Linked DNA regions of Homo sapiens: region 1 is linked to region 2. Evidence: fine-mapped expression QTL. Tissue or cell type: whole blood. Region 2 holds a variant in brackets; the other region holds the start of a gene. All regions are shown on one strand. Distances are from middle to middle.

Region 1 (5,491 bases), 73 kb after region 2:
CAATAGCCAAGACAGCACCTTGCATAAGTAGGAACTGGATAAATGTTAACTGAATGGGATGTTTAATTTTAAGATGCTGATATTTCTTGGATTAGACTGATACCTCCAACTCCCTCAATGCCACCTGCTGGGTGCTGAATGTAGAGAGAGAATTGGAGCTCCAAGGACCAATAATTAAATGTAAATTATTATGGAAACTTTCACATGCATATTCTTTTTACTTCTAAAAAGCTACTATCGCATTTATGCTTATCTCATTCTCCCAAGACCCCAGTCAAGGGATTGAAGAAATTATTTATTTATTTTATATATATTTTTTGAGACAGAGTTTTGCTCTTGTTGCCCAGGCTGGAGTACAACGGCACGATCTCAGTTCACTGCAACCTCCGCCTCCTGGTTTCAAGCGATTCTCCTGCCTCAGCCTCCCGAGTAGTTGGGACTACAGGAGTGCACCACTACGCCTGGCTAATTTTTTTGTATTCTTAGTAGAGATGGGTTTTCACCATGTTGGCCAGGCTGGTCTCGAACTCCTGACCTCAGGTGATCCGCCCGCGTCTTTCTCCCAAAGTGCTGGGATTACAGGCGTGAGCCACCGCGCCCGGCCGATTGAAGAAACTGTTATAGAAAGCTGTTCATGGAACAAGCCAAGCTCATTTCTGCCTCAGGGCCACTGCACTTGCCTTTCTCTTTGTCCAAAACGCTCTCCCCTTTGATATTTTTCACCTTGTTCCTTTATTTCAATCAAGTCTCCACTAAAATGTCATCTTCTCTGTCACTCTAAAAAGTCCCCCATACATACTCTCCAACTTCCCACTTTCACTGTTTTATTGCTATTCACAAATGTTATACATTTATCACTAGCTGACTTGTATCTAGTTGTTTACTGTTCATTTCCCCAACTACAATTGAAGCAAAGACTTTGTTCACTTAGTACTGTGCCTAGCATAGACTAAGCCCTCAATAAGTATTTACTGAACTAATGAATGACTCTAACAAGGTACACAGAATATAGCTGATTTGCCCACAGTTACACAAAACTAGCGACTCATGGTAACAAACCTCACTGCCGCTTCCCGCTACAATGCAGGAGCTCAGAGGACTTCGGAGGGAACTTGGCAAAGAACGGCTGAAAGCGGCACGGATAGAAGAGGAAGTGAGCGAGGGGACTGGACAGTTAGAGCACCACTCCTACCTAGCGATACGATTTTACGGACTGAGGCTATAGAGGCAGCCCCGAAATCGAGGTGTGTGCGTGTGTGCGCGCTTCGGAAGCCTTGGGAAGGCACGAGGACGACAGGGTCTTCCATTCTTTTTCCCGCTCCAGGCCTCAATTTACCGATCCGTAAAGCGAAAGGGGCCAATAGCATATAAGGCCCCTTCCAGATCTGACGCTTTTTAATTTCCTATCCCACCTGGAGCAACCCTTCCGTGCCGCTGACCCGCTTCAACTTACCTCTCGCCTGCTCAGCTAAGAGTTCCCAGGCCGCTGCCGGAGATCGTGCTTCCGCCCCACGCCGAGGAAACGCCTGCGCCCGCCGCCAGGAAGGACCCCGCAGACGCCGCTGTCGCCTTTCTGCCCGGGAGGACAACCCTCTGCCTGAGGACCAGTTCCGAGGTATGCCCGCCGCGGACTGGCAAGGCGGAGTAGCGGGTCCCCAAGACGAGTAGCCCAAGACGTGGGCTGCTCCAAAGAGGGTGAGAGCTGAGGATGAACGAATCTGATCAGGCGCCTCGGGACCACCCTGAAAATGGGGGGAGGGGCCTTCGGGCAGATCACGTGGTCAGGCTGTTAGCGCAGTTGCTAGGCAACCACAGCTGCGGGCGTGGTCTGCGCGGGGTTGCCCTCCTGTTCTGGTTTATCAGGGGATCCCCAAAGAAAGCAAGGGGACCAAGGCCGGGACTGCTGGGGTGAAGGTCCGGGAGGCTGAGTAAGGGGACGGAAGGGTTAGTTCTATGTATTAAATGCCTGGGGAGGGCTGAGAACTGGACACCTGATTTCGGTTACTGGCCACCCCAGCCCCTTCTTGGCGTTCAGATTCCCTACGTTGGGGTAGGGTGGCTATGGGATTGGTTGGGGACTTCCTGCTTCCTTGCGCTAGGGCTGTTGGTGATGACCCCGCCACAAAATCTAGCTCAACTCACTAGGAGTTTGCAGTTCAGAGAGGTCCCACAAGTAAATGCCAGAGCCACGACTAGAACCCACGTAGAGAATCTCTCTGCAGTGGCTCACGCCTGTAATCCCAGCACTTTGGGAGGCCGAGGCGCGCGGATTACTTGAGGTCAGGATCGAAAATTGCTTGAACCCCGGAGGCAGAGGTTGCAATGAGCCAAGATCGCGCCACTGCACTCCAGCCTGGGCAACAGAGCCAGAAAAAAAAAAAAAGAAAAGAATATCTCTGTAGAAATGATCAGTCAGCCTCAGATATGCAGAAACTACAGAAGTACAGTGATAGAACTAAAGGCATTGCCCAGGTACCTAGGGACCTCTGTTCCAGCCCTGGGCTGGACAGAGGGATTTGGGGATGGGGTCATTGAGCTCCTTCCTTTGCCCCTTCTACTTGATTTCCTGCTCAGTCATTGCATCTGGTTTGGGTGAAAGTCTCCTTCCTCATTAAAGACATTCAATGAAGAATGAAACTTTATCCCCGAGCTCAAGGGTAACTAACAAGAGTTCTGCCTTTGTGTGAGGTCCCCTGTCGAAACGACTTGCTGTAGAACAATCCTATGGGGGAAGAGTGAAGAAACTGAATTCTGAGATCCCAATGCCTCCTCGACTGAAGCACCAAAATTAAAAATATTTTTAGAGGCAAAGAGCAAAATTAAGACAGAACTCCAAATTGAAAGTCAGGACTCTGTATTCTATTTTCAGGGACAAGTCTTGTGTAAGTCCTCACTGTGAAATTCAACTTGTCTTTGTAAAATAGAAAACCAGATTTTTGTAACACCTCCCAATCTGAGTGACATGATGTCCAGAGTGCTTTGGGGTCATTTTGTGTTCTGGTGAATAATTCAGAGGTACCCTCTTTCCCCTGATATTGACTGTCCACTGACATGTATTCCCTTTGCCTTCCCAGGCACAGGCCATGGAAAGGAATGACATCATCAACTTCAAGGCTTTGGAGAAAGAGCTGCAGGCTGCACTCACTGCTGATGAGAAGTACAAACGGGAGAATGCTGCCAAGTTACGGGCAGTGGAACAGAGGGTGGCTTCCTATGAGGAGTTCAGGTTGGCTCACTGCCATTTTTCTCAGGCCCTCCTGTTATGGTGGATTATAGTAGTTAACTCTGAAATCAAACCATTCTGGGCTTCAGTCCTGGCCCCACCGTCTACTGTTTGATCTTATGCAATTTCCTTAACTTCTCTGAGTCTCAATTATTTATCTGTAGAACAGTAACTGTTATAATTAAATGAGTTCTTGCACATAAGACTGAGCAAGTGTCTGACACATGTGAGGTGCTTGAAAGCAGTCAGCTATCGCTGTTGTTATTATTATGGTCATATTGGTCCGTAACAGGTTTATCCTATACCATGCAAAGTCTAGCTGCCTCACACCCACAGACACAGCATTAAGTCCATTGCCTAATTTCTGTCCTTTGCCTACAGGGGTATTGTCCTTGCATCACATCTGAAGCCACTGGAGCGGAAGGATAAGATGGGAGGAAAGAGAACTGTGCCCTGGAACTGTCACACTATTCAGGGAAGGACCTTCCAGGATGTGGCCACTGAAATCTCCCCGGTAGGTGAGGCCCTGCCCCTTTAGTCCAGCAGGATTCTCTGCCCTAAAGCTTCAATCCTGTTTTTTCATTTTGTTTTGTTTTGTTTTGTTTTTTTAACCACACATACCTCTTCTTTATTTGTCATGTTAAACCAACAGAGATAGGTTTCTGCCTCCAATCCCAGAAAGAAAAACAAACAGCAGATGGCAAAGCTGAGTTGAAGTGGGCAGAATGAGTCAGAAAGTTGGGCTAGGAAGGTCGGCTTCCCTTAGTCCTTTGACTTTCATTCTCAGATCAGAATTGGGATGCTCTGCCTCTGGGTTGTATGGTGTCTAGTGTAATGATCCTGTGGCAGTGTTGAGAGAGAGACCCCAACATTCAGATCCTTGAGTTCCTTTCTCTCTTCCTGAGATTTCCAATCAACCCATCCACCCGACTTACAGTAAACCCTGACTTACTCTTGAAGACCAGAGCTATGTCTCCATTCATGAGTAGGAAAATTCCAGTATAAATGAGAATCTCAAATCATGGCGTGGATTCCTTGGGGCCCTCCCTGTTTCATCCCCAGTTTCCTCATCTGAAAATGAGGCCGCCAAGGACCACAGCTTTCCCAGTGCTCAGACAGTAGTGAGATGAAGACAGTAAGATGAAGAGCTACAGGCTCCCCTCCCTGTCACTGTTGCAGAACAGCTGGAAGAGCTCCTGACTCCCTTTCCTTCCTTTGTGGTCCAGGAGAAAGCCCCCCTCCAGCCCGAGACGTCTGCTGACTTCTATCGTGATTGGCGACGACACTTGCCAAGTGGGCCAGAGCGCTACCAGGCTCTACTGCAGCTTGGGGGTCCAAGGCTCGGCTGCCTCTTCCAGACAGATGTGGGATTTGGACTTCTTGGGGAGCTGCTGGTGGCACTGGCTGATCACGTGGGGCCGGCTGACCGGGCAGCGGTGCTGGGGATCCTATGCAGCCTGGCGAGCACTGGGCGCTTCACCCTGAACCTAAGCCTGCTGAGCCGGGCAGAGAGAGAGAGCTGCAAGGGCTTGTTTCAGAAGCTGCAAGCCATGGGCAACCCCAGATCCGTGAAGGAGGGGCTCAGCTGGGAGGAGCAGGGTCTGGAGGAGCAGTCTGGTGGGCTCCAGGAGGAGGAGAGGCTCCTGCAGGAGCTGCTGGAGCTGTACCAGGTTGACTGATGCGGCAAGCTACCCTCAGAGGTCCCAGTGGTCACTGGAGGCAGTTTTTTGGTTGTTGTCTTGGGGGTTCTGCAGGACCATAATAAGAAACCCACACCTGGTTCCCTTCTCAACTTGGAATTTTCAGAGCAAAAACAGGAATCAAGTCTTCCCCACTTCTCCAGTCCCTCAGTGTCTCGCTGTTTTGAACTGTGTGTATCCATGGACAGTCAAGAGCTCAGGAAGTTGAGAGCGGTTTTGTTTCCCACCCTTAGAGTCTGCCAAGCCTCTAGCCCACTGGCCTTGAGAGATGAGTGTGTGCCCAACCAAATGCTGGCTATACCAGTTACAGCCTCCACTCATAAAAGGGAAAAAGCAAAATCTTTATGGTAAACAAACACTGATCTCCACAGCTCTTAACAAGAATGTTTATAGCCCCAAACCAATGAATGGACATGTAATCAACAAATGATCAAATACTACATCATTTGAGGTGTTGAATTTTCCCCTAGAGACTCAGTTCTTGTGCAGGTTGGGCCTGGGAAAGTCCCAAGCCATCAGCTCAGGTCCAGCCAGCCTCCCGGATGGCCAGATATGCAGGAGGGTGGGT
Region 2 (7,959 bases):
ACCTAGCCTCTTTCCTCCTTTTTTTTAAAATTTCTTATTTTTGTAGAGACAGGGTCTCATCATATTGCCCAGGTTGGTCTTGAACTCCTGGACTCAAGCAATCCTCCTGCCATGACCTCCAGAAGAGCTGTGATTACTGGTGTGAGGCACCATGCCTGGCCTTTCTTTCCTTTCCTTTTTTTTTTTTTGAGATGGAGTCTTGTTCTGTCGCCTAGCCTGGAGTGCAGTGGCACAATCTTAGCTCACTGCAACCTCTGCCTCCCAGGTTCAAGCGATTCTCCTGCCGCAGCCTCCTAAGTAGCTGGGACTACTGGCGTGTGCCACCACACCTGGCTAATTTTTTGTATTTTTAGTAGAGACGGGGTTTCACGGTGTTAGCCAGGATGGTCTCGATCTCCTGATCTCATGACCTGCCCACCTCGGCCTCCCAAAGTGATGGGATTACAAGGCGTGAGTCACTGTGCCTGGCCCTCTTTTCGTTTTTTGAGATGGAGTCTTGCTCTGTTGCCAGGCTGGAGTGCAGCGGCACAATCTCAGCTCACTGCAACCTCCACCTCCCGGGTTCAAGCGATTCCCCTGCCTCAGCCTCCAGAGTAGTTGGGATTACAGGCGCGCGCCACCATGCCCGGCTAATTTTTTGTATTTTAGTAGAGATAGGGTTTCACCATGTTGGCCAGGATGGTCTCGAACTCCTGACCTTGTGACCTGCCTGCCTCGGCCTACCAAAGTGCTGGGATTACAGGTGTGAGCCACCGCACCCGGCCTCTTTTTTCAAATAGAGACTGTCCCACTCTGTTGACCAGGGTGGAGTGCATGGTGTGATCACAACTCACTGTAGCCTTCAACTTCTGGGCTCAAAAAATCCTCCTGCCTCATCCTCCTGAGTAGCTGAAACCACAGGTGTATGCCACCACATCCAGCTAATTTTCAAATTACTTTTTGCAGAGACAGGGCCCTCACTATGTTGCCCAGGGTGGTCTCAAACTCCTGGGCTCAAGGTATCCTCTAGCCTCAGCCTCCGAAAGTGCTGGGAGTACATGTGTGCCACTGCACTCCAGACTGGGTGACACAGTGAGGCTCTGTCTCAAAAATAAAATAAATAAAATAAAATCAGTCAAATTAGCCAGGCGTGGCAGCATGCGCCAGTAGTCCCAATTACTTGGGAGGCTGAGGCAGGAGAATTGCTTGAACCTGGGAGGCAGAGGTTGCAGCGAGCCGAGATCGCACCACTGCAACTCCAGCCTGGATGACAGAACAAGACTGTCTTAAAAAAAAAAAAAAAAAAATTAGTCAAGTGCAATAGTGAGAAGGGGGGGAAAGAAAGAGTCCAACTATTTTTTTTTTTTAATCAAGTGCTTATATGTTTTGGGGAAGAAAAAAAAAAAAAAAACGTTGGGATCCAGGTGCCTTGGCCTGTAATCCCCATATTTGAGAGGCCAAGAGGACTGCTTGAGCCCAGGAGTTCAAGACCAGCCTGGGCAACAAAACAAGACCCTGTCTCTTCCAAAAAAAATTTTAAAATTAACTGGGCGTGGTGGCGGTGTGGGCCTGTGGTCCCAGCTACTAGGGATGCTGTGGTGGAAGGATCGCTTGAGAGCACCACTACACTTTAGCCTGGGCTACAGAACAAGACTCTGTCTCAATTACAAAAAAAAAAAAAAAAAAAAAAAAAAAAAGGCTGGGCGCAGTGGCTCATGCCTGTAATCCCAGCACTTTGGGAGACCGAGGCAGGTGGATCACCTGAGGTCAGGAGACCAGCCTGACCAACATGGAGAAACCCTGTCTCTACCAATACAAAATTAGCTGGGCATGGTGGTGCATGCCTGTAATCCCAGCTACTTGGGAGGCTGAGGCAAGAGAATCTTGCCCAGGGGGCAGAGGTTGCGGTGAGCCGAGATTGCGCGACTGCACTCCAGCCTAGGCAACAAGAGCAAAACTCCGTCTCAAAAAAATAAAAAGGGCCAGACACAGTGGTTCGCGTCTGTAATCCCAGCACTTTGAGAGGCTGAGGCAACCTGAGGTCAGGAGTTCGAGACCAGCCTAGCCAACATGGTGAAACCCTTTCTCTACTAAAAATACAAAAATTAGCTGGGCGTGGTGGTGGACACCTATAATCCCAGCTTCTCGCAAGGCTGAGGCAAGAGAATTCCTTGAACCTGGGAGACGGAGGTTGCAGTGAGCCAAGATCGTGCCACTGCACTCCACCCTGGGTGAAAGAGTGAGACTCAGTCTCAAAAGAAAAAAAAAAAAAAAGTTGAATGACTTAATGGGCACCAGAATGCTTTTGTCCAAATTGTGCTTGTATTACAAGCATTATAGCCTCAAAGAACAAAGCTTCAACTGAGAGCTGGAGAAGAATTCATTTACCAGAATACTTCATTTCTTTCTTTTTATTTTGAGACAGAGTCTCGCTCTGTCGCCCAGGCTGGAGAGCAGTGATGCGATCTCGGCTAACTGCAACCTCCACCTCCCAGGTTCAAGCCATTTGCCTGCCTCAGCCTCCCGAGTAGCTGGGATTACAGATGACTGCCACCACGCCCAGGTAATTTTTTGTACTTTTAGTAGAAATGGGATTTCACCATGTTGGCTAGGCTGGTCTTGAACTCCTGACCTCAGGTGATCCACCCGCCTTGGCCTCCCAAAGTGCTGGGATTATAAGCATCAGCCACCACTCCTGGCCCCATTTCATTTCTTTAGAAGTAAAATGCTGGCCGGGCACGGTGGCTCACGACTGTAACCCCAGCATTTTGGGAGGCCGAGGTGGCCGGATCATGAGATCAGGAGATCGAGACCATCCTGGTTAACACGATGAAACAGTCTCTACTAAAAATACAAAAAATTAGCCGGGCATGGTGGTGGACGCCTGTAGTCCCAGCTACACAGGAGGCTGAGGCAGGAGAATGGCATGAACTCGGGAGGTGGAGCTTGTGGTGAGCAGAGATCACGCCACTGCACTCCAGCCTGGGCAATGGAGCGAGACTCCGTCTAAAAAAAAAAAAAAAAAGTAAAATGCTATCTGCAAAGAGATCATCATATCCTTGTTTTAGGAAAACTCTTTGGGCAATATATTCCACAGGTCTGAAAGATAAACCTTTATTGCCAAGGACTGCTCTCAGCCAACTACAGTACTTGTAAAATTCAAGAATGTATAACTGTATGCCAGCCAGTACTGACTAACAGGTCATTCACTCTTTAGAGTTGCAGTAAATAGCAATGCTCAAACGCCCAGCTAGTTTTTTGTATTTAAAATTATTTGTATTTAAATCTTAAAAAATATTTTTAAAAATACATTTTACTAGGTTCTTATTTCAACACAAACTGAACTCATCAGCTGTAGCAGTATGTTGAAAAACAACTGTTGCCATTCAGCTGATATTAACAGCTCAGAACTGTTTTCTATGTCTAAATTTCAGGTTAACGATATCAGCCAAAATCTATCTTCTCATACCTATTCTCAAAGGAACGGTCTTACAAAACTAATAATCTGGTCGAGTGCGGTGGCTCACACCTGTAATCCCAGCACTCTGGAAGGCAGAGGCAGGCGGATCACCTAATGTCAAGAGTTGGAGACCAGCCTGACCAACATGGTGAAACCCCGTCTCTACTAAAAAATACAAAATTAGCTGGGCATGGTGGGGCATTCCTGTAATCCCAGCTACTTGGGAGGCTGAGGCATGAGAATCACTTGAACTCGGGAGGCGGAGGTTGCAGTGAGACAAGATAGCACCGTTGCAGTGAGACAAGATAGCACCATTGCACTCCAGCCTGGGCAATAAGAGCTAAACTCCGTCTCAAAAACAAACAAACAAA[A/C]AAAAAAAATTCCTGCTTTTTCTTTGCCTAAATTTTTATCAAATATTTTGAACAGAAGCCACATGTATTTCTACACTACAAGAAAAGCATAAGTTCAGAAATAAGTAATCATACCCCCTAGTCAAACTTAACTATAGGAAGGAAGGACAGGACAGGACAGGAAAGGAGGAGAAAAAAGAAATTAGCTGGGTATACTCAGGAGGCTGAGGCAGGAGGATGGCTTGAGCCCAGGAATTTGAGGCTGCAGTGTACTATGACAGCCTGGGCATCATAGCAATGTCTTTGAAAAAAAAAAGGATGGCCGGGCACGGTGGCTCACGCCTGTAATCCCAGCACTCTGGGAGGCCGAGGCGGGAGGATCACAAGGTCAGGAGATCGGGACCATCATGGCTAACATGGTGAAACCCCATCTCTGCTAAAACTACAAAAAAAAATTAGCCAGGCGTGGTGGCGGGTACCTGTAGTCCCAGCCACTGCACTCTAGCCTGGGCGACAGAGCAAGACTCCATCTCAAAAAAAAAAGGAAAAGGAAAAAGAAAAAAGAACACACCTCACCAATTTTGAAATGTGAACATACAACAAATAAAGCAATATTTTTTGGAACTCATCACTTTGCATTGAATTAGGCATGGAACAAACACTAAGCATTTGTTAAGAGAACGATGCTCTGGATTTAAATTATATATCCTGTATTCTAAGATCCTCATTACTCAATTGATAGGCAAGCCTGGACCTGGGGGGAAGTGGACTAATCAGAAACACAACCCTGCATTCCTTCCCTTTGGCTGACTTATACAAATATAAGAATAAAATTTAATTGACAAAGGATAACAGCATTTATAAGTAAGATTGTTATGCTGGAGATATGTTAATTAAGTCCTCTGGATTAAAGGCTAAAACTCAATTTTACCTGCATGAATTGATTACAGAGAAAATTACCAGGTCCTTTGCTCCTTTTTAAGAGAACTGTGGTAGAACTTTTTAAGAGAACTGTTTCTGGTAGAAAACAATTCTTAAGTCACACAACCTCAAAAGTTAAAAGTGCTGGCTTTTGAAGAGGTTGTTTGAAATGCTTTGGAAAAATGCACAACAGTTTAAGTAGTAAATAATATTAAGCCATTACAAATCAGGACAAATATTAACAGACCTTCCATACAACTTCTATGTATCTCTTCAATATGCCCTTTGCCTACAGCACTCTGGGCACAAAAATCTGGGGAAAACTAAGATCTGTTTATTGGAGCTTTTTACCTTCTACCCAGAAAAGTTAGTTCGTGTTTAATTCTGACATTACACAGTACTTAAGACATTCAAAGCAACTGCAGTGATACAACTCTATGCTAAGTTTTTTTTAAATCAGTAAACTTAACCCACAACTCACAATATTTTAATCAGGAGCTCTGGAAGTAAGGGTATTTTTCTGTTTTTTTCCATACCCTCTGAGGTTGAAATTTTTTTGCTCTTTTACTCTGAATAATACCTAAACCCTCTCTAGGGAGAGAAATATTTTATTCCTAAATGACATTATTAACGCATTTTTCTACAGATATTAAAGTACTGGAGATATGCTGTTTCCTGCTTATCAGGAAATTAAAATCCCTTTCATTTATGTAGTTTGATTTTTTATAGCGCTTTCACATATATTCACTTGAACGTATACACGACACAAACATATAACAAATTTAGACTTATCAGGCATACAAGATGACCCTCAGCCTGAACTTATTCAAACTTAACTTACTCGATTTCACATCGTCTTGATGCTAACAAAATTAAGCATGAGCATAATGAAATCGGTATCACTGCCAGTTCTCAATGAACAAAAAGAAAACCAAATTCGCCCATTTCGCAAAGGAAAAGTACTCCCAATCAGACAATCGCAAAAAAAAGAACAAAATCTAAACCATACATTCACGTACATCTTTTCAACTCAGAGCTCCAAACGCAGCCGCCAACCACACAACTGCCCACAATCACAGCGGTAGCGCCTACTCTTAATTTTGAAGCTAGAGACTTAAGGAAACACACACACACACAAAACAGTTCTCAAGTTTGACAAAGTGGGGGAAAAGTCATTTTAAGTAAAGACAACGAGTTAATCAGGAGGCGATGAGCCCAGTCCTTCCGCCCCGCTTTCCCGCTTCCAGCCCTCGAACGAACCCTCCTCTAACCCCCGGGAGGCAGGAGTTCCAGCGGGGAGATGCGGGAAGCCTCAGACGAGCCCGCACGCCGCCGGAGACGCAGGGATCGAGGTCGGGGAGACAAAGAGCAGCCCGCGAAGAGCCCGGGCGGCGAGGGGCGGCCCGGCTCCGCCCTGCGCCCCTAACCGCCCGGGTAGTTGTCGGCACCGCCGGGGCGCCGCCGAGTGCGCGCCGCTTCTGTCCGGGCTCCCCGACCGTCGCCCGACACCTCCGCGGCCCAGGACACCCCCGAGCCGTTTCCCTCCCGATTTGGGAGCCGCGCGCCTGGGGACAAAGAGGGAGGGTGCGCCGGGGACAGTGGCAGGACGCGGGCCGGCGACGCCCCTCCGGACTCGGCGGGAACCCCTCGGCGGCGCCCCCCTCCTTCTCCCGCTCTGGCCGCGCTCCTCCCCGGACCTCCGGAGGTTCTCCTCGGCCCCTCCCCGGGCTCCCCAAGAGTTCTCCCGCCTCCCCCTGGGACCCCGCCCCTGGCCCGCTTCTCCTCAGCCGGCCCTGCGGCCGCCCCTCACCCGGCGGCGGGTTCCCCCGGAGCCGCCTCCTCCGCCGGGCCTCGGCCCGTCCCGCCGGTCGCGGCCTCATGTGCCCCGCGTCGCCATCGCCTTCACCCTCGCCTCTCCTCCACCTCCTCCGCCGCTGCCGCCTTCGCCTCAGTCTCCAGCCGAGGCAGAAGCCGCTCCCGCCGCTGCCGCCGCCGCCGCCGCCTCCCGCTCCCGCCGCCGCGACCCGCGGGAAGGCGCCTGCGCACTGCGCGCTGCGGTGGGGGCGGGGGCGTCCCGCCGCGGCCCGGGAGCGGGGGGCGCGCGGCACGTGGCGCTCGAGTGGGAGGGGGGCGCCCCAGAACGCGCGGGAAGCGACGCGAGCGCCAACTTTCCGCGGTCGAGTCCTCGCCGCTCTCTCGGATAGTCCGGGACGCGGCGGAGGCGCGGCGCGCGTGGGAGTCACCCGCGTGGAGTCTGGACCCCGGGTGGGCGCAGACTTCGCTCCGGACAGTTCATTCTTCCAAGCTGATTTTCGGGCGAGAGTCCCCCGCCAGCCGCGCCTCAGTTTGAGCGGGCCGCTAACGGCGCCGTGGGTTCTCGCCTTACCTGGGTATCCTGGGTTGGTTTAGCGGGCCCAGAGTTGTCTTCTGCGCGCTCCGCCGAGGCCTTGGTCCATTGTAGCACGGGATGCTAATGTCTCCTCCCAGGTTCTGCTCTACAATTCCTCGAGGATCTGGCGGGCCCTGCGTGGATCTAGCTAGAGTCGGGGCTCTTAGCAGTGCTCTAGATACTTTTCAGGTCCTGAACTTCTCGGATTAGCAAGACCCTAATAGGCTATTTCCTCTTAACTCTTTGCATCCCAGCAGGATCCCATTCAGAGGACTTGGGAAAAATTTTCATGCATAGGAATCCCCAGTTTTAAAATGCCCAGTAGGAAACCGAAAATTCTCCAAATGCTTTAAGTAGAGTAAGACTTTGGGTAATAAAGGAAGGCTCAGTAAAGAGATGGGCGACCTCTGGAATGATCTCATCTGAGCATCAGAATGCCGATGGACAGGCTTTTATTATTTTGCCCTTTTGACCAGAGGGGAAATTAAGCGCTAACAAGTGAGGTTACTTGCTGCAAGTCAAACTCCCCCACCCAAAGCCAAGCCCTAAGGGGTAGCCCCAGAGTGGAAATCTTGAAGGCTAGGCATCTAATGCACTGACCAGTTTTGTGTGGCCAGTATGTTTTCCAAAAATATGAATTAGTTACCAAAATATTAAAATCCAGATTTCTGGCCTCCCTAAAAAGTCAAAAGCTGCTTACTTTGAGCTTCTCTTTTCACATGGCAGCTCCTCTTGAGTCACCTTGTCCGGGTAGGCAATGTCCCCACTCAGCTGCTTAAATCATTTCATGACCTGCTTGGCCTCGGAGCATTTAAGTACTTCTCCCTGTGATTGCTGTAGTCTGTCCCCACGCCTTATCA

Evidence for each region. PIP is the estimated chance that this variant, and not a neighbour inherited with it, causes the effect.
Region 1: EFTUD2 starts here. The variant in region 2 is fine-mapped to the expression of EFTUD2 in whole blood (INTERVAL, PIP above 0.99).

Annotation. Positions count from the first base shown.
Region 1 is chr17:44,897,916-44,903,406 of GRCh38, forward strand. It overlaps EFTUD2 (elongation factor Tu GTP binding domain containing 2), which reads right to left and starts at 1,530. Exons shown (of 28, transcript NM_004247.4): 1 at 1,454-1,530. It overlaps DNAAF19 (dynein axonemal assembly factor 19), which reads left to right and starts at 1,814. Exons shown (of 4, transcript NM_213607.3): 1 at 1,814-1,944; 2 at 3,075-3,226; 3 at 3,605-3,737; 4 at 4,450-5,491. The coding sequence starts at 3,084. The coding sequence ends at 4,902. It overlaps GFAP (glial fibrillary acidic protein), which reads right to left. Exons shown (of 9, transcript NM_002055.5): 9 at 5,244-5,491.
Region 2 is chr17:44,823,542-44,831,500 of GRCh38, forward strand. It overlaps GJC1 (gap junction protein gamma 1), which reads right to left and starts at 6,746. Exons shown (of 3, transcript NM_005497.4): 1 at 6,521-6,746. RefSeq lists a silencer at 6,059-6,348 and enhancers at 6,404-7,377, 7,378-7,959. The variant A/C (reference allele first, on the strand shown) is at 3,811.